Linked DNA regions of Homo sapiens. Changing the gene in region 6 together with the main gene of any one other region gives a genetic interaction. Each region holds a gene or a part of one and is shown on either strand. Other genes may lie near its edges.

Region 1 (3,500 bases), on a different chromosome or scaffold from region 6:
ATTTTCTCCTGAAGAACCCGCCTCAGGGACTCTTTGGCTGTTGTCTCATAGTTATGTTTATCCTCTTGTAATGCTATAAGTTCCTTTCGTAAACTATCTTCTGTTTGATTCTACAATAAAAGATATTTATAATTATAGACAAGTTATTTTTTAAAAGCATTTATTGTTTGAAAAAAATTAACACATTATGATATACTTTAAATTATATATTAAGGTACCTCCAAACATAAATGATTCTGGCCCTGTATTAACTAAAGATGTATTTACAAGTTGCATAAGTAAATTATGCCTTCACAAACTTACTAATTTCCACTTCCTATAGAAAAAAAAAGTTATAGGCAATTGAGAATTTCCCTAAAATATACAAAATTAGTTACTTTTATATTTGTCATATTTTCTGCAAGCCACCATATTCACATTTGTAGGCAAAAATAATCAATTACCTTCAAAGGCACCAAGCATTCTGAAACAATGGTTAAAACAAAAGGAATAAGAGTACCATGGGGGAAAAGCAGACTTCATGTCTGGGGCAGGAAAAGTACAAAATGAGCCTGAAACATCTTGTCTGAAATGACAGCATGAAGCTATCACTCTGAAGACATTTACACAGACCAAAGATGGGATAATTTGAGCATCAATAAGAAAAATAGGCTGGCCGTGGCACTTTGGGAGGCCGAGATGGGAGGATTGCGTGAGCCCAGGAGTTCAAGACCAGCCTGGGCAACATAGCAAGACCCTGTCTCTAAAACAAGAAAAACAACTGCACCAGATTTAAATACATCAAATATGTTTAAATCTAAGTGGAGTGAGAAAACACTTCATGGCCAGTCTTTGGTAGATGAAAAACCACCAATTCATTATTCTGAAATCTAATAAATAAGGGGAGAAAATCACTTATCTTGCTTTCCCCGTAGAAAACATACCTCAGGGTTATTTAAATTTTTTTATTCCAATACCTTTAGAGATACAAGTGGTTTTTGGTTACATGGATGAATTATGTAGTGGTGATGTCTGGGGTTTTAGTGCACTCATTACCTGAGTAGTGTATATTGTATTCAATAGGGAGTTTTTCATCCCTCACTCCCCTCTCACTTTCCCAACTTCTGAGTCTCCAATGTCCATTATAGCACTCTTTATGCCTTTACATACCTATAGCTTAGCTTCCACTTATAAATGAGAACATGTGGTATTTGGTTTTTGATGCCAAAGTTACAAAAAACAATGGCCATTGTTTTTCCTTTTTTCGTTTTTTTAGAGACAGGGTCTCTCTTTGTCACCAAGGCTGGAGCGCAGTTCTGCGATCATAACTCACTGTAATCACAAACTCCTGGGCTCAAGCGATCCTTCCACCTAAGCCTCCCGAGTAGCTAGGACTACAGGTTATGTACCACTATGCTAAGCAAATCTTTAATTTTTGGTAGATACTGGGTTTTGCCATGTTGCCCATACTGGTCTCAAACTGCCCCCGCTTTTTTTTTTTTTTTTTTTGAGACAGTCTCGCTCTGTCGCCCAGGCTGGAGTTCAGAGGTGCGATCTTGGCTCACTGCAACCTCCACCCCCACCGGGTTTAAGCAATTCTGTCTCAGCCTCTTGAGTAGCTTGGATTACAGGTACATGCCACCATGTCCAGCTAATTTTTGTACTTTTAGTAGAGACGGGGTTTCGCCATGTTGGCCACGCTGGTTTTGAACTCCTGACCTCAAGCAATCCGCCTGCCTTGGCCTCCCAAAGTGCTAGGATTACAGGCATGAGCCACTGTGTATGGAAGGAAACTTCTCTTTATAGAAGTAACCCAGCTAAATAAGTGAAGGAATAACAGAATTACATCATTATTTTTGTAACTTTTTTGTTGTTGTTGTTGTTGTTGAGACAGAGTTTCACTCTTGTTGCCCAGGCTACATTGCAATGGCACGATCTTGGCTCACTGCAACCTCTGCCTCCTGGGTTCAAGGGATTCTCCTGTCTCAGCCTTCTGAGTAGCTGGGATTACAGGCATGTGCCACCATGCCCGGCTAATTTTGTATTTTTAGTAGTGATGGGATTTCTCCATGTCGGTTGGACTGGTCTTGAACTCTCGAGCTCAGGTGATTCGCCCGCCTCATCCTCCCAAAGTGCTGGGATTATAGGTGTGAGCCACTGCGCCCAGCCTTATTTGTAACCGTAATGAAATAATGGATCTAGCCTGGGATCATCAATGATTGATAAAAATCTCAAAAAGAAAGACAACTAGACATTATGTTGTCCCTTGGTGGAAGAACACAATACCATCCATAAAGTGTTGTTGACAAAAAGAAAAACTGAACCTAAATCACATCAAATCTCTAGATGGAACTACTACTTTATGGAGTGGGAGGGGGAGCTAAAAAATGTTTAAATAACAATGCAGACTGAGGGAAATTCTAGAGGACAAATGACCCAGTTTTTTCAAGAAATATTAACTGCAATAGAAAAAAGACAGACTTGTACATGGGTATTCATTATGTAATTATTTTTATTTACATGGATGTCTGACGTTTCTCAGCACAAAAGATTTAAAAGAATTGTGGAAATGTATGAAGTTTTTAGCATATACTCAAAATGATAGTCAAAGAAATGATGTTACATAAAAAACTATGCATTTCATTTTACACATTTGAGGTTAATACCTACTTTGGAGCATGCCTGTAATTGGTTTCCCATAACTTCTAACCGTGATAAGAGTCTATCTTCATCTATTAAAGCCTATTGAAGAAAAATTAAATGTAAGTAAAACCCGAGTAATTATAAAGTCACATGTATATAAAAAAAGGTTGCTACTGACAACAAAAGATATAAAAGCGTAAAACTGACCAGCATCCACTGTAAAATGCTAAATCTTCAACAACTTGTTCATTAGTTAGGAAATAACTTTGTCTTTGTTTGCTACATTTTAGTTTATTTAACATGTATGGAATATTAAACTATGTTTAAATGTTTCTTAAATATAAAACAACTGGAATACCTGCCAACTGGTATCTGAAGCCTCTTGGGTGATGGCTAGTAGCCGCTGAAGCGTGGCTAACTTCTGTTCCAACATTTGTTCCCGATGTAAGGCCTCCTAGTATTACAAATCACAAAACAGATTCTAATAAGCTCATCATGATTCTTTTGAGGAGTGATCAATTTTCAGCATATTCTAAAATATTTTCATATTACATCCCACTTGATGTATTTTAAAGTAGTGAAACTTGATAGTACTTTGTAAAACATACAGCAGTCCCCGCTTATCTCTGGTTTCCCTTTCCACAGTTTCAGTTATAGTGCAGTACAAGATATTTTGAGAGAGACAGACAGAATGTTGACATTCACATAACTTTTATTCACATAACAGTATACTGTTGTAATTGTTCTATTTTATTATTATTGTTAATTTCTTACTATGCTTAATTTATAAGTCAAACTTTATCATAGGTATGTGTATATATAGGAAAAAACATAGTAGATATAGGGTTTGGTACTATCTGTGATTTCAGGCATCTACT
Region 2 (3,500 bases), on a different chromosome or scaffold from region 6:
AAATACAGTTCAGACATTCTCCCACATAATAGTGTCTCAGACCTCACTAGAAAATTTAGCAGATGCCTGCCCCAATTAACTACGATTGGGATTATTACTGGCACCAGGAAGGCAAATAAGGATACTATCACCTCTTTTATCTCACAGACAAAAGAAAAACTCCCAGGGCTCAGCTAAGAATCACATCACAGTATTCAGAGGATTTTGCTACTGAACAGACTCTCCCTCCCGGCAGCTTTTACTCCTCAGGGAGCTAGACAGTGTTGAGAGGTGCAGGAAAAAACAGACTCCTCTCCTATATAAGCAGCTCTACCACTAGAAACCACCAAACTGGAGCTGGGTCTCTTCCCTGGCCTCTCAGGAACCCAGGCACTGCCTGCATCTGAAGCAAGTCATATGGAGAAGAAGGTGTTGTAGGGAATAGGGTTAAATTGCTTTAGCTATTTATTATTACTATTATTTTTATTTTATTTATTTTTTTGAGACAGAGTCTTGCTCTGTTGCCCTGGCTGGAGTGGAGTGCAGTGGCGCAATGTTGGCTCACCGCAACCTCCGCCTCCCAGGTTCAAGCGATTCTCCTGCCTCAGCCTCCCAAGTAGCTGGGATTACAGACACCCGCCACCATGCCCAGCTTGCTTCATTTAGTTTTGAATGCCAAGAAAATATGCCTTTGTGGGCAGGGCATGGTGGCTCACGCCTGTAATCCCAGCACTTTGGGAGGCTGAGGAGGGCAGATCACGAGGTCAGGAGATGGAGACCATCCTGGCTAACACAGTGAAACCCCGTCTCTACTAAAAATACAAAAAATTAGCCGGGCATGGTGGTGGGCACCTGTAGTCCCAGCCACTTGGGAGGCTGAGGCAGGAGAATAGCATGAACCCAGGAGGCGGAGCTTGCAGTGAGCCGAGATCACACCACTGCACTCCAGCCTGGGCGACAGAGTGAGACTCTGTCTTAAAAAAAAAAAAAAAAAAAAGCCTTTGAGGGTAACTGTTCTAAAGAAAATGAAAGGACTGGAAAGCAAAAGAAAAGGTGAAGGAAAAAGTCCTGTATTCAACAGCCTTCCCCTTCTAAGTCAGAGGAATAAGAAAAAAGTGACGGAAGACAATCTAAATTTTTAATATTAAATGACTCCTATGGCCTTCAAGGGGGTTCAGACAACTGAGGCTCTACACTTCACACTGGGAACCTAAATTCTCCTTCCAGTCAGACTGGAAGGGAAATGGAAGAGGCCTCCCCTGTTCCACAGCCTAACAGCTGGCCCCTAGGAAAAGTTGACAACTGACTGAGTTCCACAGCTCCCAACTGGGCAAAGTAGGGAATTCTGGTCTGAGTGACAAGGAATTGTTACAGGTCACACAGAGCAGCAGCTGGAGAAGACACAGAAGATATACACATATGTTCTGTGTGACTGAGCAGTTAAAATACATGTCTGCAGAGGACTCTCTGGGGAGGAGATGCTATCGCTTAACCTAGCTCCCCATTTCTTATCACCTCAAAAGATTCCAGGCAAACAACTTTCTACTGGCCTCCATTAAAGGACTTATTGGATCAGTCTCTGCTAGGACAGAATGGTAAAGAGCCCCAAATCAATCCCCTCACCCAGTTAATCACCATTCTCTTTTTCAAAATTTTTTCCATGGACTAGATAAATATGGATTGGTTTGCACCAATTCTGATATTTTTATGTTCTTATATTTTCATAGAATGGCTTTAAGAGATCATCTGATCTAGTGCCCTGCTTCCAAGCAGGCAGGCTGGCTCAATTTTCCTCCTTTTAAAGGATCCTTTATTTCCCCACCCCTTGCCTTTTTATTTTTTTCCTTTTTCTTTCTTAAGAGACAGGCTCTTACTCTGTTGCCCAGGTTGGAGTGCAGTGGTGGAATCATGGCTCACTATACGATTTCTGGTTGGGGATGCTTCCAAGGAGGAAAGCTTCTTCCTGGCCTCAAGCTACCCTCCCGCCTAGGCCTCCCAAAGTGCTGAGATTACAAAGCATGAGCCACCACAACTAGTCTCCTCTATCCTTTTTTTATACATCTCACAGTCCTTTGAGATGGATCCACAAGAGATGGAAAAACGGGTAAGGAAACCAATATCTGACGTTCATTCTACAAGGTGAATTAAGAGAGACTGTCAAAAGTTAATGGAAAAGAAAGAAAGGTTCAAATATATTAAATATTATTTAAAGTTATACAGGTGTCCAGTAGAAGAAATAAAAATGACATAATTATATAAATGAGAGGTATATCCTCTAAAGCTAAATCCTTGTTTGTAACAATAAGTAAAGAAATAGAGGAACAAATGGCCAGGTGCAGTGGCTCATGCCTGTAATCCCAGCACTCTGGGAGGCTGAGGCGGGTGGATCACCTGAGGTCAGCACTTTGTGACCAGCCTGGCCAACATGGTGAAACCCCGTCTCTACTAAAAAATATAAAAAACTAGCCAGGCATGGTGGCGGGTGCCTGTAATCTCAGCTACTCGGGAGGCTGAGGCAGAACAATCGCTTAAACCTGGGAGGCGCAGGTTGCCGTGAGCTGAGATCGCTGTAATCCCAGCACTCTGGGAGGCCGGGGTGGGTGGATCACCTGAGGTCAGGAGTTCGTGACCAGCCTGGCCAACATGGTGAAACCCCATCTCTACCAAAAAATACAAAAACTTAGCCAGGCGTGGTGGCGGGCACCTGTAATCCCAGCTACTCGGGAGGCTGAGGCAGGAGAACTGCTTGAACCCTGAGGCAGAGGTTGCAGTGAGCCGAGATCGTGCCACTGCACTCTAGCCTGGGCGACAGAACGAGACTCCATCTCAAACAAACAAACAAAAACAACAACAAAAACAAACAAAAAAACAAAGAAATAGAGGAACAAGCATTTTATCTAAAGCTATGGTGATAACCTTCAGAACACTGAGATAATTAAGGAGGTTAACTCTGCGAGAACAGGAGTAGGGATGAACGGAAACAGGACTGCTGTTTTTCTTCATAAACTCTTTGAGTACCATTGGATTTGTTACCAAATGCATGCATTCCTTCAAAAAAAAATTTTTTTTTTTTTGAGATGGAGTCTCGCTCTGTTACCCAGGCTGGAGTGCAGTGGCGCCATCTCAGCTCACTGCAACTTCTGCCTCTCAGGTTCAAGTGATTCTCTGCCTCAGCCTCCCGAGTAGCTGGAATTACAGGCACACGCCACCACACCTGGCTAATTTTTGTATTTTTAGTAGAGATGGGGTTTCACCATGTTGTCTCGAACATGCCAGGCTGGTTTCCAACTCTTGACCTCAAGTGATCCGCCCACCTCAGCCTCCCGAAGTGCTGGGATTACGGGCATGAGCCACGGTGCCCAGCCCAAAAATAATTTTTAAAGAGAGGTTGCTCCTCAAAAGAGACTCCATATCATCTTTGACTGCCTGTTCTGCTGTTGAGGAGTTCCTCCTCATGTCTTAATGTCTAACTCAAACCTTTCTTTAAGGATGTCTCAACTCATCTCTCCCCTTTGACCTCA
Region 3 (3,500 bases), on a different chromosome or scaffold from region 6:
GTGCTTCCCACCCAACCAGCAGCTTCAGAATCAGAGGAACCTGCTATAATAATGGTACAAATTGAGATCCCAGGTCCCACCTTTGTAAAATCCTATTTCATAGGATTCAAAAGGATCCCAGAATCTGCATTAGTAAAAAATCTCATGTGGCCGGGTGCGGTGGCTCACACCTGTAATCTCAGCACTTTGGCTCAGGCGGGCAGATCACCTGAGGTCAGGATTTTGAGACCAGCCTGGCCAAAAAGCTGTACGTTTCTTTAGGAAAGCCTGGGCCAGGCGTAGTGGTTCACACCTGTAATCCCAGCACTTTGGGAGGCCAAGGTGGGAGGATCACGAGGTCAGGAGTTCGAGACCAGCCTGGCCAAATGGTGAAACCCATCTCTACTAAAGACACAAAAAAATTAGACAAGCATGGTGACGCACACCTGTAATCCCAGCTACTTCAGGGGCTGAAGCAGGAGGATTGCTTGAACCATGGAGGTTAAGGCTGCAGTGAGCCAAGACTGCACCACTGTACTCTAGCCTGGGGGACAAAGTGAGACCATTTCTGAAAAACCAAAACAAAACAAAACAAAACTGCAGTTTCTAACTGGCTTTGCAAGTTGATTCAGTCAATAAAGGCACTAATTAATGGTGGGAGTCATTATTTGCCTTTAGCGTTAATACATGATAATCAGATTAAGATCCATTAGTTTAAGGTCTTGTAGTCTGCTATCAATTTTTGCAAAGGAAATATGTATACACAAAGACTTAGAAAAACCTCTCAGCTGGGCGCAGTGGCTCACGCCTGTAATCCCAGCACTTTGGGAGGCCAAGGCAGGCAGATCACGAGGTCAGGAAATTGAGACCACCCTGTCCAACATGGTGAAACCCCGTCTCTACTAAATATACAAAAATTAGCTGAGCATGGTGGTGCACGCCTGTAGTCCCAGCTACTCGGGAGGCTGAGGCAGGAGAATCACTTGAACCCGGGAGGCAGAGGCTGCAGTGAGCCAAGATCTGCACCACTGCACTCCAGCCTGGGTGACAGCGTGAGACTCCGTCTCAAAAAATATATATATATATTTTTTTTTTTTGAAAAAGGCTACTGTTAGGTCTTTTGTTTTTTATTAATTTATTTATTTTTGTGACAGGTTCTCACTCTGTTGCCCAGGCTAGAGGGTAGTGGCATGATCATGGCTCATTGCAGCCTTAACCTCCTGGACACAGGTGATCCTCCTACCTCAGCCTCCTGAGTAGCTGGGACCACAGGCTGGCACCACTACACTGGACTAATTTTTCTTACTTTTTTATAGATATGGGGTCTTCCTATGTTGCCTACCCTGGTCTGAACTCCTAGGCTCAAGCAGCCCTCCTGCCTTGGCCTCCCAAAGTGCTGGGATTACAGGTGTGAGCCACTGCACCCGGCCTATTTATTTATTTTTGAGACAAGATACTGCCATGTCACCCAGGTTGTAGTGCAGTTGTGCAATTGTAGCTCACTGCAGTCTTGACCTCCTGGGGTCAAGTGATCTTCCTGTCTCAGCCTCCCCAGTAGCTGGGACTACTGGGCCCGCACCATGCCTATTTTTTAAAAATTCTTTGTAGAGACAGGTTCTCACTATGTTGCCGAGGGTGGTCTTGAATTCTTGGGCTAAAACAATCCTAGCACCTCGGCCTCCCAAAGTGCTGACATTACAGGTGTGAGCCACCACACCTGGTGAGGTCTTTTGACTATAATATATAAAATATCTGTGCTAGATGTTGTGGCTCATGCCTGTAATCCTAGCTCTTTGGGAGGCCAAGGCAGGAGGATTACTTGAGTCCAGGAGTTCAAGACCATCCTGGGCAACAGAGTGCAGCTCTGTTTTCTAAAAAAAACTGTTTAGTTAGCCAGGTTTCAGGGCATGTGCCTGTAGTCCTAGCTTCACAGGAGGCTGACGTGGGAGGATCACTTCAGCCAGGAGGTTCGAGGCTGCAGTGAGCCATGATCAAGTGACTACACTTCAACTTGGGTGACAGAGCAAGACCCAGGCTCTTTAAAAAACAAACAAACAAACGAAACTGGAACGGGTATGGTGGCTCACACCTGTAATGCCAGCACTTTGGGAGGCTGAGGCAGGAGGATCATGAGGTCAGCAGATAGAGGCCATCCTGGCCAACATGGTGAAACCCCGTCTCCACTAAAAATACAAAAATTAGGCCGAGCACAGTGGCTCATAACTGTAATCCCAGCACTTTGGGAGGCAGAGGCGGGCAGATCACGAGGTCAGGAGATTGAGACCATCCTAGCTAATATGGTGAAACGCTGTCTCTACTAAAAAAAAAAAAAAAATACAAAAAATTAGCCGGGTGTGGTGGCGGGCACCTATTGTCCCAGCTACTCGGGAGGCTGAGGCAAGAGAATGGCATGAACCCAGGAGGCGGAGCTTGCAGCGAGCCAAGATCGCACCACTGCACTCCAGCATGGGTGACAGAGTGAGACTCCGTCTCAAAAAAACAAAAACAAAAACAAAACAAAACAAACAAACAAAATACAAAATCAGCCAGGCATGGTGGCATGTGCTACAGGTGCCTGTAACCCCAGCTACTCGGGAAGCTGAGGCAGGAGAATCGCTTGAACCTGGGAGGTGGAGGTTGCAGTGAGCTGAGATCGCACCACTGCACTCCAGCCTGGCAACACAGCAAGACTCCGTCTCAAAAACAAAAAACACCAAACTGGCCAGGCACAGTGGCTCACGCCTGTAATCCCGGCACTTTAGTAGGCCGAGGTGGGCGGATCACCTGAGCTCGGGAGTTCGAGACCAGCCTGGGCAACGTGGCGAAACCCCGTCTCTACTAAATATACAAAAATTAGCTAGACATAGTGGCGCATGCCTGTAGTCCCAGTTGCTCAGGAGGCTGAGGCAGAATTGCTTGAACCCAGGAGATGGAGGTTGCAGTGAGCCAAGATCACGCCACTGCACTCCAGCCTGGGCAATAGAGAAAGACTATCTCAAAAACAAAAAACAAAAGCAAACTGAAGATCTAATTATACTGTAATATGTAATTTAAGCAAACTTCATTAAATACTTAAGACTTTTCGGCCAGGCGCGGTGGCTCACGCCTGTAATCCCAGCACTTTGGGAGGCCGACGCGGGCGGATCACCTGAGGTCAGGAGTTTGAGACCAGCCTGACCAATGTGATGAAACCCTGTCTCTACTAAAAATACAAAAATTAGCCGGGTGTGGTGGCATGCACCTGTAATCCCAGTTGCTCAGGAGGCTGAGGCAGGAGAATTGCTTGAATCTGGGAGGCAGAGGTTGCAATGAGCCATTGCACTCTAGCCTGGGCAACAAAAGTGAAACTCCATCAAAAAAAAAAAAAAAAAGAGTTTTCAACAGAATATGCAAGCATCAACTACTGCTTTGGAATAGTTAAGCAAAACTAGATCCCAGCATTGAAACGTTTTCTCACCTTCTTGAAAAATATCCTGTTCTCCAACTTGATACCATATCCCTACTCTCTGTATTATTAGCAG
Region 4 (3,500 bases), on a different chromosome or scaffold from region 6:
GCTTGAAGGAACATTAAATTAACTCAAGTTATAAGGTGACTATGACGTCCTTTAAGTAAAAATGATCTGGGAAACCCAGTTCATATAATGATCATGGAAAGCCAATGCAAATATTTTTATAAGATTAATTTTGGTTAATCAAACCTGGAAAGTTTGGTACTATTTTCCATCATTCTCCCACAGATATAGTTTTTATATAGACCCATTATATTGGGGGGGGGGGGTGTTACTATGCTCACAGAAAAAACTCACAGAGAAAAATACACAAAATAATATAAAAGATATCACTCAGAATCAACAGATGTTGACATTTTTCTCTAAGTCTCCTTCTTTCCAAATAGTTTTTCAGATATAGTTCAAGTCCTACTCCTCCCATCCTTTTCCCATCTACCCAGACACAACAGTTCATATGATTCTCATAATCTGCTTTATCCTTCCACATTGGACTCTATTATTAAGCACTTATTTTAGCATTAAAAAATGCAGCCCCCAGTTAGCTGTATTTTACTTAGTATTAAGAAACAAAAGACAAAAATCTACAATGCATTCTCTAATGTCTTTAAACAAGATTTAATCCATAGACGTTGTAATCGGATTTGCTTCGAAATAACACTGAGGAGGAGGGGAAGGGGAAGGATCCGAGACACAAATTAGCCATGAACTGAGGAGTGTCAGAAGTGGATGATGAGCATGCAGGGCTTCACTATACTATTCTCTTGAACTCAGCCTACATTTAAAAAGTTCTCTTTATAAGAAAGCTGATGTAGCCCTATAAGAAATAAACTGACATAAAAATATTCCAATATATAAAATGTTAACAACACATTTCCCTAGGAACATTTACTTCTAAAAGTAGAAATTATATAAATGGTTTAATTATGTATCATCTGATGCCAAAGAACAGTGTCTAAAATATTTGAAGCTATTTGAAATAACTTAGTTTACCATATAAATTAAAACTGACCCAAGACTAGAAGCTAGCATATGACAGGAATAAACTGTTCCCTCCACCCATAGTGCTGTGATTTACAGGCTTTAAATAGTTACTTCTCTTTATTTTTCTTCTAATAAGGACAAGAGAGGGGAATGCAGTCTATTGTGAAAACAGAGAAGGCAGAGGGTACGCATCTCAATGGACTGGCTGGGGAAAGCTTTCATGATCAGAAAAACGGGCACCCAGGAGGCGGCCAACGCTGATGGCCATCAGGCATTTGTGAACAGCATTTCTAAGAACTAATACTGTGGACGAGGGGCATCAATTAGATGGAGGAAGTGCTGAATTTCTTCCCCCATTTCATCCTGAAGTCATTTAAGTATATATTCTGCAAATGTTTATGGTCTAGGTGTTAGAATTTGCTTTTTAAATTAATAGTGAGGGGATGAGAAAATAAGAGGTTCCCCTCACCCTAGCACCAACCTCAAAAAAGTTTTAATCACAAATTTTTATAGACTACGGCTACCCAGAAACTAAAGTATCTCCTCAGTCACTCTAATGATTCCCTTTAGACTCAAGACCCCAACAAAGTCCAAACAATTCACAGGAAAAAGTTTTTCATAAGAACAAAGAGAAAGCACCCAACTCATCATAAAGGATTTCAAATTCTGGTAGAGTCATTACTAACTTTTTTTTTTTTTTTTTGAGACGAGTCTCGCTCTGTTGCCCAGGCTGGAGTGCAATGGCGCGATCTCGGCTCACTGCAAGCTCTGCCTCCCAGGTTCACCCCATTCTCCTGCCTCAGCACCCCCGCCCCAGTAGCTGGAACTACAGGCACCCGCCACCACACCCGGATAATTTTTTTGTATTTTTAGTAGAGACACGGTTTCACCATGTTAGCCAGGATGGTCTCAATCTCCTGACCTCGTGATCCACCCGCCTCAGCCTCCTAAAGTGCTGGGATTACAGGCGTGAGCCACCACGCCCGGCCTGTCATTACTAACTTTTAATCCTCACTCAACTTTTCCTGGGCCAGGCATAGTGGCTCACACGTGTAATCCCAGCACTTTGGGAGACTGAGCGGGGCAGACTGCTTGAGCCCAGGAATTCAAGACCAGCCTGAGCAACATAGGGAGACCCAGTCTCTACAAAAATGTTTTTAAAAAATTAGCCGGGTGTGGTGGCACTCACCTGTGGTCCCAGCTACTCAGGAGACTGAGGTAGGGAGGTCGAGGCTGCAGTGAGCTGTGATTACACCAATGCACTTCAGCCTGGGCGACAGACATTGTCTCAAAAAACAACAAAAAATGTTCCCTTGGCAAGTAAACAGTAGGAGAGGAATCTCCTTCCAGCCATGTGGATTGCTGGGAAGAAGGCAATATGCTAATGGTGATCAAGTAAGAAAGTGCTCTCCTATAGCGTATCCTGGAATGGAGACCATCCTTTGAGTATTTTGTATCTGCAGTTTGAGATACTCTGTGTAGTTTACAAACACTTAAAAAGGAGGAATAAATTAACATTTATTGAGCACTTGCACTCATGATGTATGTGAAGTTATTTAATATTCATAATAATACTATAATAAAAAATTGCTATCTCTAGTTTGCTGCTGAGGAAAATTCAATTCAGTGTTAGTAACCTGCCCAAGATTACGAGACTGAGAAATGACAGAAATATTACCTGACCTAAATCCAATGGTATAGCAGCCCATTCTTTTCACTACAAATTGGAGGTGTAGTAAACAAAAAATTGCTATCAGAGAATCTTTCAGAGAATCTAAAAACTGCAAGTGACAGTAAAAAAGTAGAGTTTACATTCTGTATAGAAAAACAAAAGTCCTTTTTACAAGTATCTCTGTTAAATGATTCCTCTCCTAGGCTACAGGATATGTGCAACAGGTACACACAGTGGGCACATGGAAAGAAAATATGTATACTTACCATTGGTAGACAATAAAAACTGAGCAGCATTTTTCTGGGGTAACCACCTAATTTTGTTGATCTTTTCTTCTATTTCTAAACTTTTCAAGTAGTCAAACTCTGGTTCATGGCTCTGGAAGGTGCTGTAAACATTATATTCTCCTCTGCTATGAGACTGGATTTTGTTCTAAAATGAAAACAAAAATATATGGACCATTGTTGAAAAATATTTCAAAATAATCAAATATGTAATCAATTCCAAAGGACCCTGCACATTCTCAATACCCCATTAGTTGTGTCTTTATACAATTACATTCTGTTTTTTATATTTCTAAAGGCCTTCAAGGATTAAATGAGAAAACTTAACGGGGGAAAAGGCTAAATAAAGCTGAATAAATAAGCTCAATTCATTAGGGAAATAATGACGTTAAATATGGATCAATTTGATTGCTAATTTACTCTTATGTATTTGATGGTATAGTCTATGAAAAAAACTGATGAAAAAAAACTGAGCACCCATAATAAGGAAGTTCATCTAAAAATAATGATAAAGTCTTGCCCAGAAAGAGCTAGGTGAGGCACACCTTCTTCCTATGCCCACTTTAGGGTCAACTCCCCGATCTGTTATTTAATATGATGTATTGTCC
Region 5 (3,500 bases), on a different chromosome or scaffold from region 6:
CTTATTTTCATTTTCAGGGTTGAGTACTCTAAGCTCTCTACTTACTGTGAGAAGTTTTCTACATTGTAAAATTAAAAGATTATATTTAAAATACTTCTTTAGGATGTTATTCAGCCATCAAAAAAAAACCCAACTAAAATGTCTTACCAGTAAAGTATTATTAAAAGCCTCATTTGTGGAGATTCGCTGACTTCCTTGGTTAAGCTGTCTTGTATTTACTTAATTTGTCCCCTCAACCAGGTGTTTTCTTTTCAGCCTGTTACTGTCCTGTGCCATTTTTAAAAATAGCCATCATGAGTAAGGGCTTCTTTAAAATAATCCCTGACAATATCTTTGGCATTAATACGACATAAAGACAAGACAGTATATGTATGTTTTCATTCCTGTTTTGTACGAGTGCCTCATTTTGTAGTCATGAAAGTAACATAGTACCTTAAATAAAAATGTAATGACTAATCTAAGGTCTAGGAATAACTATTGTAGAAGCTAAGTAGAACACTTAGTTTGGGGTGTCAATTTTCTATCAACGCAAACACCTTAGGGTACCCAGACCAATTTTATGTATATATATTCTGAAATGCTCCCTTTTTAATGTGGTCATTTGTTGCCTTCTAAGTTGAGAGGACAAAACTGAATAAAGTGAATGTTAATTGTAGTCTAGTTTTTTTGTTTGTTTTTGTGTTATTGCAAGATTGCTTTAAGATTGCAGAAATATGCATTATTAGCCAGCATAGATAATCCAGATGTTATAATAGGAAGGAAAAACAACTCCAGTTAAATGTGACTGTGGCGACTCCCTTTTATGTATACATTTAAATGCATAGTTGCAGAGGACACATCCCTCCCCTTCTGTCTCCCTAACTTGAACTGTAGACCGTCCTCACTGGGAAGAGTAAGGCCCCACATTTTGTGCAATAGCAAGCTACTGCCCACTTCTGCATGTCTGCTACGAGATCAGAAAGTCAGTTTCACTAAGGTTGTCTTTTAGCTGAATACTTAGAGTAAAACCAATCAAATCCATTGTACATACCTGACCATATGTCCCAGATAAAAAGGAAAGACTTGCGTGATGTTTTTTTCCTTCTGAGTGCCCTGAGGAGATCCTTTTGCTTCAGACTATTTCTAATTTTTCTTTGTTTATAGGTTCAGAATTTTTTCCATGATTGTTTTCCCCCAAACAAGTGCATTTTTAATTACTTTAAATGCAGGGGTGATAGAGGAAATGCTATTCGAACCATAGACATCTTTAATCTGTGAAGCTGAAATTTTTCAGCAAAGGAAATTGCATGGTCAAGTTCAGAAACTGGCCATTAATTTCCCCCTTCCGCTCCACAGTTCATAGCTACTCTTGTTGCAAACATGTAGTGATAAGGAGAACTAACGTATCAAGGGGCTGAGAGGGTAACGTTCCCCTCCTCCTCCATGTTTTTATTTTGGTGTCTGTTTTGTTTCTAGCACTGTATTTAGTACTGTAGTTGAATGAGGTATGATGTCTCCCTTCAAGGAACTCAGAATGGAACAGAAGCATGAGCAAAAGATTGTATTACAGAGGTATGAATAAAATGCCATGGGGAACACAGAGAAAGGTTCACCCGGGAGAGATGGCCTAGCCACTTCCTTAGTGACTGTTTGGTATATGTAGGTCCCCCTGCCATTACTCTTTCAGCCTTCTGCAATCTAGTTCTACTTAGTCACACACTTCTCTAAGACCACTCATACGTAAACACTACGTAGAGGCCCCTTTTTGCCTCATTTTACATTGTTTAGTTATCATTTTGAAACTTTTCTTCACATATGTAACAGTGCCGGAGTTTTTCTGCTTCTCTGTGTTTGTTCAGTAACTCTTCTTTAGGATACACCTAAAGATGAGAAGCTTCATACCCAGTACTCCTCTTCATTCACTCATATGTTTTTGGGATCAGTCCCTTCTGCTGGCTGTGCATTGGTCTAATGGAACAGAATAGAGTCCAGAAATAACCCAACATGTATGTGGACAACTGGTTTTTGACAGAGGTGCAAAGGTCTTGAAAAAATGATGCTGGAATAATTGGGCATCAGATGCAAAATTAAAAACAAATTGATCCATATCTTAACACTGGCAAAGATTAAAGTCCAAATGGATTATAGTTCCCCAAAACTGTATAATTTCTAGAAGACAACAAGGAAAACGTGTTCAGCCTTGGGTTAGGAAAAGATTTCTTAAATCCAACACCAAAAGCACAATCCATGAAGGAAAAATCGATAAATTGTACTTTATCAAAATTGAGAACTTCTCTTTGAAAGGTACCATAAGGAGAACAAAAAGACAAGCTGTAGAGTGGCAGAAAAATATTTGCAAAACATTTCTGATAAATGAGTTGCATCTAGATTACATAAAGAAGTCTCAAAACTGAACAAGTAAACCCATTGTTTACTTAATCGCTGTTTCTCCTGAGCTTGCTGCCTCTGCCCCTGCTCTCTCTCCTTTTCCATTTGTTTTCAACATTGAATCCAGAATGTTCTTCTTGAGATCCAAGTCAGATCACACCAACCCTCAGAACTCTCCAATAGACGACCATGGCACTCAAAAGTCCACAATAGCCTTCAATGCTGGGCAAAACATGAAGCACCCCTTTTCTCCCTTCTCTGACCCCATCACCTCTGTGTTCACCCTGCTCCTGCCGTCCTCCCTGCCTCCAAAACAGGTCAGGCCTTCGTGCCTTTGCACTTACTATTTGCAATACCCAAATGTTCTTCAGGCTCTTTAGCCTCTTCATTTCTTTCCTGAAGTGTCATTCTCACTGAGGCTTATCTAAAGCTGCAGCTACTGGGGCATTCCTGTCTCATCTCCCTGCTGTATTTTGTACTCCCGGCTCTCTTTTGTACTTTTAAACATACTATATGGTTTACCTTTGTTGTTTATATTTGCATGTTGTTTCCCACTTGAATGTAAGCTCCAAAGATTTTATTTTTTTAAACTGAATTATTACTGTATTCCCAGAACAATTCCCTGGCAAATATTTGGTACTCAATAGTAATGCTAAGTTAGTAAATAAATGATGAATTTAGAATCAAAATAATGTGTCTATGGCCAAAATAAAACCTGAAATCCCTGTCCTATTTCCCAGAGGTAACTGCTGTTAATAGTTTAGTTGTGTGCTTCCAGACATACCTTCACAGAATCATTTATCACAATAAAGGTGTCATACTATGCAGATTGTTTGACAAGATGCTTTTTTTCACTTTACACGGGCATCTTTTCATACCATTGTGTGGCCAGGCCATGATTTGTTTTCCAAAAGACATTTACCCAATTTATATGGTGAAGATTTTTGTCCATATTACTTTTTATAGTATTTCTGTAGGGTAAGTTCCCAGAAGTAATATTGCACGATCATCGAAAAATTTTAGTGTTACATTACTGCCCCATAAAGGTACTAATTAACATCCCTCTCAACAACATAGAAGATTCCTTTTTTTTTTTTTCTTTTTTTGGGTGGAGGGGGGCGGGGACAGAGTCT
Region 6 (3,500 bases):
CCTGGGAGGTATAGGTTGCAGTGAGCCGAGATTGCTCCACTATACTCCAGCCTGGGCGACAAAACAAGACTCCATCTCAAAAAAGAAAAAAAATATATATATATATTTTCAACAAAATCAATTTCTTAAAAAAATTCTTAGGCTTTTAAAGAGAAAATCCACTATATTCTTTTCCCTAAGATATAAAGATGCATATTAGAAACTTTAACTGGAATTTCAGGGTATTCTCTTGTTAGAATAAAAAGATATAAAGATAGAGGCAATGATTTTTTTAAAAAAGACAGCAATTACTTTTAAGTGATCCAGTTAACTTTTAAGTGATCTAAAGATACTATATGAAGATATGGCTTTAATGTACAGTACTGATGGGATAAATGACCTTCGTATGATATACGTTAAATATCTTTCTTTTCCTACTTCCATATGAAAACATGAATAAGTGAATAAATAAACTACAAGAAAACTGCAAATGCAGGGCTATGAAAAAGAGGGATAACGTGCTAAAAATGAAAGACTACTAAAAATACATATGCCATAGGTCCTTTAAACTTTTAAAAATAGTATTTGGGTTTTCTTCTGATTATAAAAGTGATACAAAATGATCAATATAGAAAATTCCAATAATATGGGAAAATATAAAAAAGCAAACAAAAATCATCCATTATTTTGTTGGCCAGAGATCACTACTTGTAACATTCTGGCAGAAAACAAATCTTTCAGGTTTTTTTCTATGTATGCACATGCACAGAGTTTATTTTTAAGAAAAATCTGGGATATTCTTTTGTACCAATTTTATTCTACTTCAATTATAAATACATTCCTATGGCATTAAATATTATTCTATAATTTTTAACTCGTAAAATATTTCACCCTCAAGATTAACAGAATTTAACCATTCCTGTGTTTGTTTCTACTCTTGTATAAGTAACACTCATAAATAAATCTATGTACATATCTAATTATTTAGGAGAAATTTGTAGAAATATACTTGCTGGAACAAAGAAAAAAACTTTATAAAGTTCTTGATATATAAAGTGTCCTGCAGAAAGACTGTATAATTTATACTCCTATTGGAAGTACATGTTAATGCTTATTTCCTAAATTCATCATCAATACTTTAATCTTCACTAATAAGAATCACATTTCATTTTAATTTACATTTCCTTAATTATCATTAAGCCTAAATATCTTTTCTTGTGTGATTACTTTTCCTTTGCTTCTTCATTTATGAACTGCCTATTTTGCCTAATTCTCTACTTTTATGAATTATCTAATTTACTATTTGTGATAGTCATTATTTTTCTTACGAGTTTGTAAGAGGTCTTTACATATTAAAGATATTAAGTCTCTATTTGTCATATGTGTTATAAATATTATTTTCGATATATTACTGCAACTGATTTTTTAAATTCTTTTTTTTTTTTTAAAGATTGGGAGTCAAGTAAAATTCTTTTTTTTCTTTTCTCCCTCAGGTCTATTGAAGAAGTATAAATGACAAATTAAAATTGTGTATATACACACACACACACACACACACACACGTATACACACACATATATATATACGATGTACGACATATTGTTTTTATGTATACACTGTGAAATGATTACCACCATCAAGTGAATTAACTTATCTATCACCTCACATAAGTATTTTATTTTTTGTGGTAAGAACATTTAAGATAACGCTCTTAGAAATCTTTGGGTATACATTATTAACAGTAATTACCATGTTCTACCATTAGACCTCCAGAACTTACTCATCCTAACGGAAACTTTGTACCCTTTAACCAGCAACTCCCTGTTCCCCACCACAACCCCTACTCCTGCAATCACCATTCTACTATTTCCATGAGTTCAACTTGTTTAGAGTCCACCTACAAGTGACACCATGCAATATTTATCCTTCTGCGCTTGGCTTATTTCACTTAGCATAATGTGAGTCTCTTTTCTTCATATAGGTTTTTATTCCATTTAAAGTTCAATTTGGTATTTAAGATTAAAAAAAAAAAACCACCTAACTTTCTATTTTCTAAAAAGTCAATAAATTTTACCAGCATCACAAATTGAACAGGGAATCCTTTCTCTAATTATGTGAAATGCCATATTCATCATTAATGAAATATGTACATATTATGTATTGGAATTTGTTTCTGGACTTTATATTCTGTTCCATTACTGAGTCTATTTTTGAAATAGCATCACAATTTTAATTACTCTGTCTTATTAATAAACATGTAAGTATCTAATGGTAGAGTGTTCTTTATTGTTTTTCCCAACAATTCCTCAGCTATTCTTTAAGCTTTATTCTCTCTAATGTACTTTAGAATCATTTTTGAAGTGAAAAAATAAATCAGTGGTTTTTAATATATTCACAGAATTGTGCAACCATTGCTCTTATCTAATTTCTAATGTTTTCACCACCCCCACAAAACCCCATTCCTATTAGAAGTTACATCCCATTCCCTCCTCCCCAGCCTCTGGCACCCACTAACCTGCTTTGCCTATTCTGAACATGTTATATAAATGAAATCATACAATATGTGGCCTTGAATCTGACTGCTTTCAATCAGCATGTTTTCAAGGTTCATCCACGTTATAGCATGTATCAGTATTTCCTTCCTTTTTTATGGCCAATGTTCTATTGCATGGATACGCCACATTTTGTTTTCCATTCCTCAGGTGAGGTATTATTTTTTGGCTATTATAAATAATATGGCTATTAATGTTCTCATACAAGATTTGGTATGGAATGTGTTTTCACTTCTCTTGGGTATATACCTAGGAGCAGAATTACAGGGTCATATATGGTAATGCATGTTTTTCTCCAAGAATATGATATATATTAACTATAGTTTTATTAATATATAGTGATTCTATGTTTAATTATTTGAGGAAATGCCAAACTGCTTTCCACAGTGGCTGTACCATTTTACATTCTTACCAGCCATAAATAAGAGTTTCAGTTTCTCCACATCCTAACCAACATTTGTTATTGTCCGTATTTTGGTGTGAAGTGGTATCTCACTCCCTGTGGTTTTGCTTTGCATTTCCCTAATAGTAAAGATGGTGAATATCTTTTCATGTCCTTATTGGTGGTGTGGGTAGGTTTTTTGGAGAAATGACTATATGTGCTTTTTTTATGTGAAACTTGTAATTTGCCAGTAGTAATAAACTGCCTGACTGTGAATCTTTCCTGCCACACTACCCTCAAATATAAAAATATTTTAAAATTTACTTAAATGTTTATTTAAGCATGCAGACATCAGAGAGAACATAAAATAGAAAATTAGTGTCATAATTCCACCCTATACTACTTTTAATCAATCTTTATTCTTTAACCTTTTTCTGACTAGAAAACAAATATATGCTTTTATAAAAAATACAAGAAAAAAATCTATAGCATTGTTGTGTGTATGTATTACTATCTGTTCAGCATTTACCATGTGCCAAGCACTGTTTCAAACACTTTAAAGTATTTGCTGTCTCATTCAATGCTAA
Region 7 (3,500 bases), on a different chromosome or scaffold from region 6:
ATCTCAAAAAAAAAAAAAAAAAAAAGAAAGTTAATTTTTCCTAGATATATCAACTATCTCTTGATACTTTTCCAGTTTTCTTACATTGAAACAAGTGGAAAATATTATACTGTCACAATATTATACTGTCACAGTCCTCTGTATGTTAACCAATTTGATATTCAAGGGTCATGTTAAAGGATAGCACATCACCATCAGAAATTAGTGTTTAGCAAGCAAAATCCATTCTCTAAGCTTTCTATAGTGTGCTGATTATACAAACCTAAGTATGAAAATTGTTTTTAGAAACTACAACTTGATGACAAGCTCTTTTAAAACTAAACAAACAACAAAGCATGCTGCTGAAATGAGTAATGATCACGGACTGAAAATTTTTCACTGTGGACTAAAATCCTGGAAATGGTTTGTAGCTCTAATCCCAGAGACACTAAGGTTATAGTGTCTCTGGCACACATTTATTGATTTGAGCTTCTATTACCCTCAGGAAGATTTGAAGTCCCAGTGTTATGGGGAAAAATTTCCCAGTCTGCTCTGAATTATAATCTGTTCTGCTACAGTACATGTTTCTGTAACATCAGATAACTCACATACGACTAGTACAGTACAGGAGCTATATTCCTTCATATGGGATATTTCATCATTTAGGGGAGCAGATTAGTGGGAAAATAATTAGGTGACCCTTGAAAACATGGGTTTGAACTGTGCAGGTCTACTTATACATGGATTTTCTTCTGCCTCTGCCACCCCTGAAACAGCAAGACCAACCCCTCCTCCTCCTCCTTATGATTTTCTTCCCTCTAGCTTACGTTACTATAAGAATACAGTATATAATACATATAACATACAAAATATGTTAATCGACTGTTAATGTTATCAATAAGGCTCCAGTCAAAAGTAGACTATTAGTAAAGTTTCTGGGGAGTCAAAAGTTGTACACAGATTTTCAACTGCCTGCAGGGTGAGGATGAGGGCCTGGGGGCAGTACTCCTAACCCCCAAGTGGATCAAGGGTCAACTGTATCACCTTCTGCAGGAAACATCTCTCAACTCAGCTGCTATACAGGCAGAAGTCCTTTTAACTCTATTTTAAGAAAATCAGAAATTCGCATTTGTACCCAGTCTCCCTCTTCAGAGAAAGGCACCTCCAGGGTAGCACAGCTCTCAGCCAATGTGGCAGGTGGCACTGGCCCTACACTGCCTCAATGGCAGCCCACACTGTCTGTATTACATCAGCACCTACTGCTGACATTTCCATTCAACTTTGTCCATGCTTTGTTCATGTCCCCTCGGGCAGCTTCCAGTGAAGCTGAGCTGCCTGCCTGTCTGGGACATCCAAGTTATTCCCTCAAGATGCCAAGTATTGTGTTTGTTAGTGCTTGCTTACTAAATTGCATACATTTTAAGTGGTCTGACTCAATAATATTTTCCTATAAACCATATTATTTTGCAGTTTTTCAGAAACATATATAATACATGCTGACCAAAACGCTTGTATTAGTAAAACTTCTATTTCTCATAACTATTGATCATAACTACTATTTTTTCAACATTCCAATTTATAAAAAGTATATATCCTCTATCAAGTACATCTTCTAGAACACATAGCTTAAATTACTAAATTTGAGCATTTGGGGTTTGTTCTTTTAAAAAAAAAAAGAGGCCAGGTCCGATGGTTCACACCTGTAATCCGAGCACTTTGGAAAGCTGAGGCAGGAGGACTGCTTGAGGCCAGGAGTTCAAGACCAACCTAGGCAACCTAGTGAGACCCTGTCTCTACTAAAAATTTAAAAATTAATCAGGCATGGTGGTGTGTGCCTGTAGTCCCCACTATTTGGGAAGCTGAGGCGGGAAGATCACTTAAGCCCAGGAGTTCAAGGGTACAGTGAACTAAAGATCATGCCAGCCACTGAACTCCAGCCTGGGCAACAGAGCAAGACCCTGTTTTAGGGGGAAAAAAAAATCTATCTTAGCTCCTATGTGCCATAAATGTTACAACACTCATAGTCTGGAGGAATCACAAAGTCTTTAAGAAAATGGAGACAGGACCTATAGTGATCACTACTCACAAATCACTAGAATCACATGCTGAAACACTGCTGCAGAATATCAATGTGTGGTCTGTTCCCACTGCCATTAACCCAACCATGACTTTCTCTGCCTGTCCTGGTATAGACCATTTAGTTCTTGTTAAGCACAGTTTTCATTATTTTCAACCTTTACCAACCAAAAACTACTAAAGAAAAAGTTAATATTCTAAGGAGTACAGTTAAGAGATATCCTAACATTCTCACTGAATCAGCCAAATATAAAGGCTAACATGTTAAACAGGCTAGAGCAGTTTTCTTCAAACTAAAGCAGTAGGGCCCTGGAGTTAACAAGACAACTTTCCAGGAGGTTAGGATAGTTTAAGGAGAATCCGGTTAAAGGTGGTCTGCTTCCACCGTACTCCCAGAGCTTGATCTGTCTGAGAATTCTTGTGGTTTGCTGGTTGTCCTTCCCATCCTCCCTTATAAATGTATTCACTTCTCCCACATTACTTCCTAATCTTACAATTGTTCATTTCCCAGACAGGTGCAGTGGCTCATGCCTGTAATCCCAGAACTTTGGGAGGCCAAGGTGGGTGGGTCACCTGAGGTCAGGAGTTCGAGACCAGGCTGGCCAACATAGTAAATCCCCTTCTCTACTAAAAATACAAAAATCAGCCGGGTGTGGTGGCAGGCACCTGTAATCCCAGCTACTCGTGAGGCTGAGGCAGGAGAATTGCTTGAACCCAGGAGGCGGAGGCTACAGTGACCCAAGATTGCGCCACTGCACTCCAGCCTAGGTAACAGATCAAGACTCCATCTTGAGAAAAAAAAAAAATAGGAGCCGGGCTAGGTGGCTCACACCTGTAATCCCAGCATTTTGGGAGGCCGAGGTGGGCGGATCACGAGGTTGGGAGTTTGAGACCACCCTGGCTAACATGGTGAAACCCCATCTCTACTAAAAATACAAAAAATCAACAGGGTATGGCGGCGGGCACCTGTAATCCCAGCTACTGGGGAGGCTGATGCAAGAGAATCGCTTGCAACCAGAAGGCAAAGGTTGCAAGGAGCCAAGTTCGCACCACTGCACTCTAGCCTGAGGAAAAGAGCGAAACTGTCTCAAAAAAAGAAAAAAAAAAGGAGTATATTTTTTATATATTCACAGAATATCTCAGGAGAGATGCATAGGAAACTGCTGACACTGGTTGTCCCAGGGTGGCCGAGGCAGGGGTGGAAGGAAGACTGTGTCACCAACTACCTTTTTGTATCTTTTGTGTTTTCAACCATAAGGATGTATAATCTATTTTATTTACAACTTAAAATTCATATTTTCCAAACTCCCAAATACTTTAATTAGTATATTGAGATGCAAAAAAAGTCCTTTTAGGCCAGGCGCGGTGGCTCACACCTGTAATCCCAGCACTTTGGGAAGCTGAGGGGAGAGGATCACGTGAGGTCAGGAGTTCAAGAACAGCCT

Evidence for each region.
Region 1: changes in PTAR1 (region 6) and SLMAP are lethal when combined (synthetic lethality), as found in Homo sapiens cells (one study listed by BioGRID).
Region 2: changes in PTAR1 (region 6) and PI4KB are lethal when combined (synthetic lethality), as found in Homo sapiens cells (one study listed by BioGRID).
Region 3: changes in PTAR1 (region 6) and SEC24A are lethal when combined (synthetic lethality), as found in Homo sapiens cells (one study listed by BioGRID).
Region 4: changes in PTAR1 (region 6) and PPP2R2A are lethal when combined (synthetic lethality), as found in Homo sapiens cells (one study listed by BioGRID).
Region 5: changes in PTAR1 (region 6) and MARCHF6 are lethal when combined (synthetic lethality), as found in Homo sapiens cells (one study listed by BioGRID).
Region 7: changes in PTAR1 (region 6) and SPTSSA are lethal when combined (synthetic lethality), as found in Homo sapiens cells (one study listed by BioGRID).

The regions. Positions count from the first base shown.
Region 1 is NC_000003.12:57,857,309-57,860,808, reverse strand, and holds part of SLMAP (sarcolemmal membrane-associated protein), read right to left. Parts: intron 3,077-3,500; coding exon 2,981-3,076; intron 2,722-2,980; coding exon 2,650-2,721; intron 111-2,649; coding exon 1-110. UniProt on the Homo sapiens protein: Associates with the striatin-interacting phosphatase and kinase (STRIPAK) core complex, forming the extended (SIKE1:SLMAP)STRIPAK complex.
Region 2 is NC_000001.11:151,320,917-151,324,416, forward strand, and holds part of PI4KB (phosphatidylinositol 4-kinase beta), read right to left. Parts: intron 1-3,500. UniProt on the Homo sapiens protein: Phosphorylates phosphatidylinositol (PI) in the first committed step in the production of the second messenger inositol-1,4,5,-trisphosphate (PIP). May regulate Golgi disintegration/reorganization during mitosis, possibly via its phosphorylation.
Region 3 is NC_000005.10:134,651,785-134,655,284, reverse strand, and holds part of SEC24A (protein transport protein Sec24A), read right to left. Parts: intron 1-3,500. UniProt on the Homo sapiens protein: Component of the coat protein complex II (COPII) which promotes the formation of transport vesicles from the endoplasmic reticulum (ER).
Region 4 is NC_000008.11:26,354,008-26,357,507, reverse strand, and holds part of PPP2R2A (serine/threonine-protein phosphatase 2A 55 kDa regulatory subunit B alpha isoform), read right to left. Parts: intron 3,041-3,500; coding exon 2,875-3,040; intron 1-2,874. UniProt on the Homo sapiens protein: Substrate-recognition subunit of protein phosphatase 2A (PP2A) that plays a key role in cell cycle by controlling mitosis entry and exit. Involved in chromosome clustering during late mitosis by mediating dephosphorylation of MKI67.
Region 5 is NC_000005.10:10,437,195-10,440,694, forward strand, and holds the end of MARCHF6 (E3 ubiquitin-protein ligase MARCHF6), read left to right. Parts: 3' UTR 1-3,194; downstream 3,195-3,500. UniProt on the Homo sapiens protein: Endoplasmic reticulum membrane-associated E3 ubiquitin ligase that plays a critical role in mitigating endoplasmic reticulum stress, the regulation of cholesterol and lipid homeostasis, and ferroptosis.
Region 6 is NC_000009.12:69,725,512-69,729,011, forward strand, and holds part of PTAR1 (protein prenyltransferase alpha subunit repeat-containing protein 1), read right to left. Parts: intron 1-3,500.
Region 7 is NC_000014.9:34,452,241-34,455,740, forward strand, and holds part of SPTSSA (serine palmitoyltransferase small subunit A), read right to left. Parts: intron 1-3,500. UniProt on the Homo sapiens protein: Component of the serine palmitoyltransferase multisubunit enzyme (SPT) that catalyzes the initial and rate-limiting step in sphingolipid biosynthesis by condensing L-serine and activated acyl-CoA (most commonly palmitoyl-CoA) to form long-chain bases.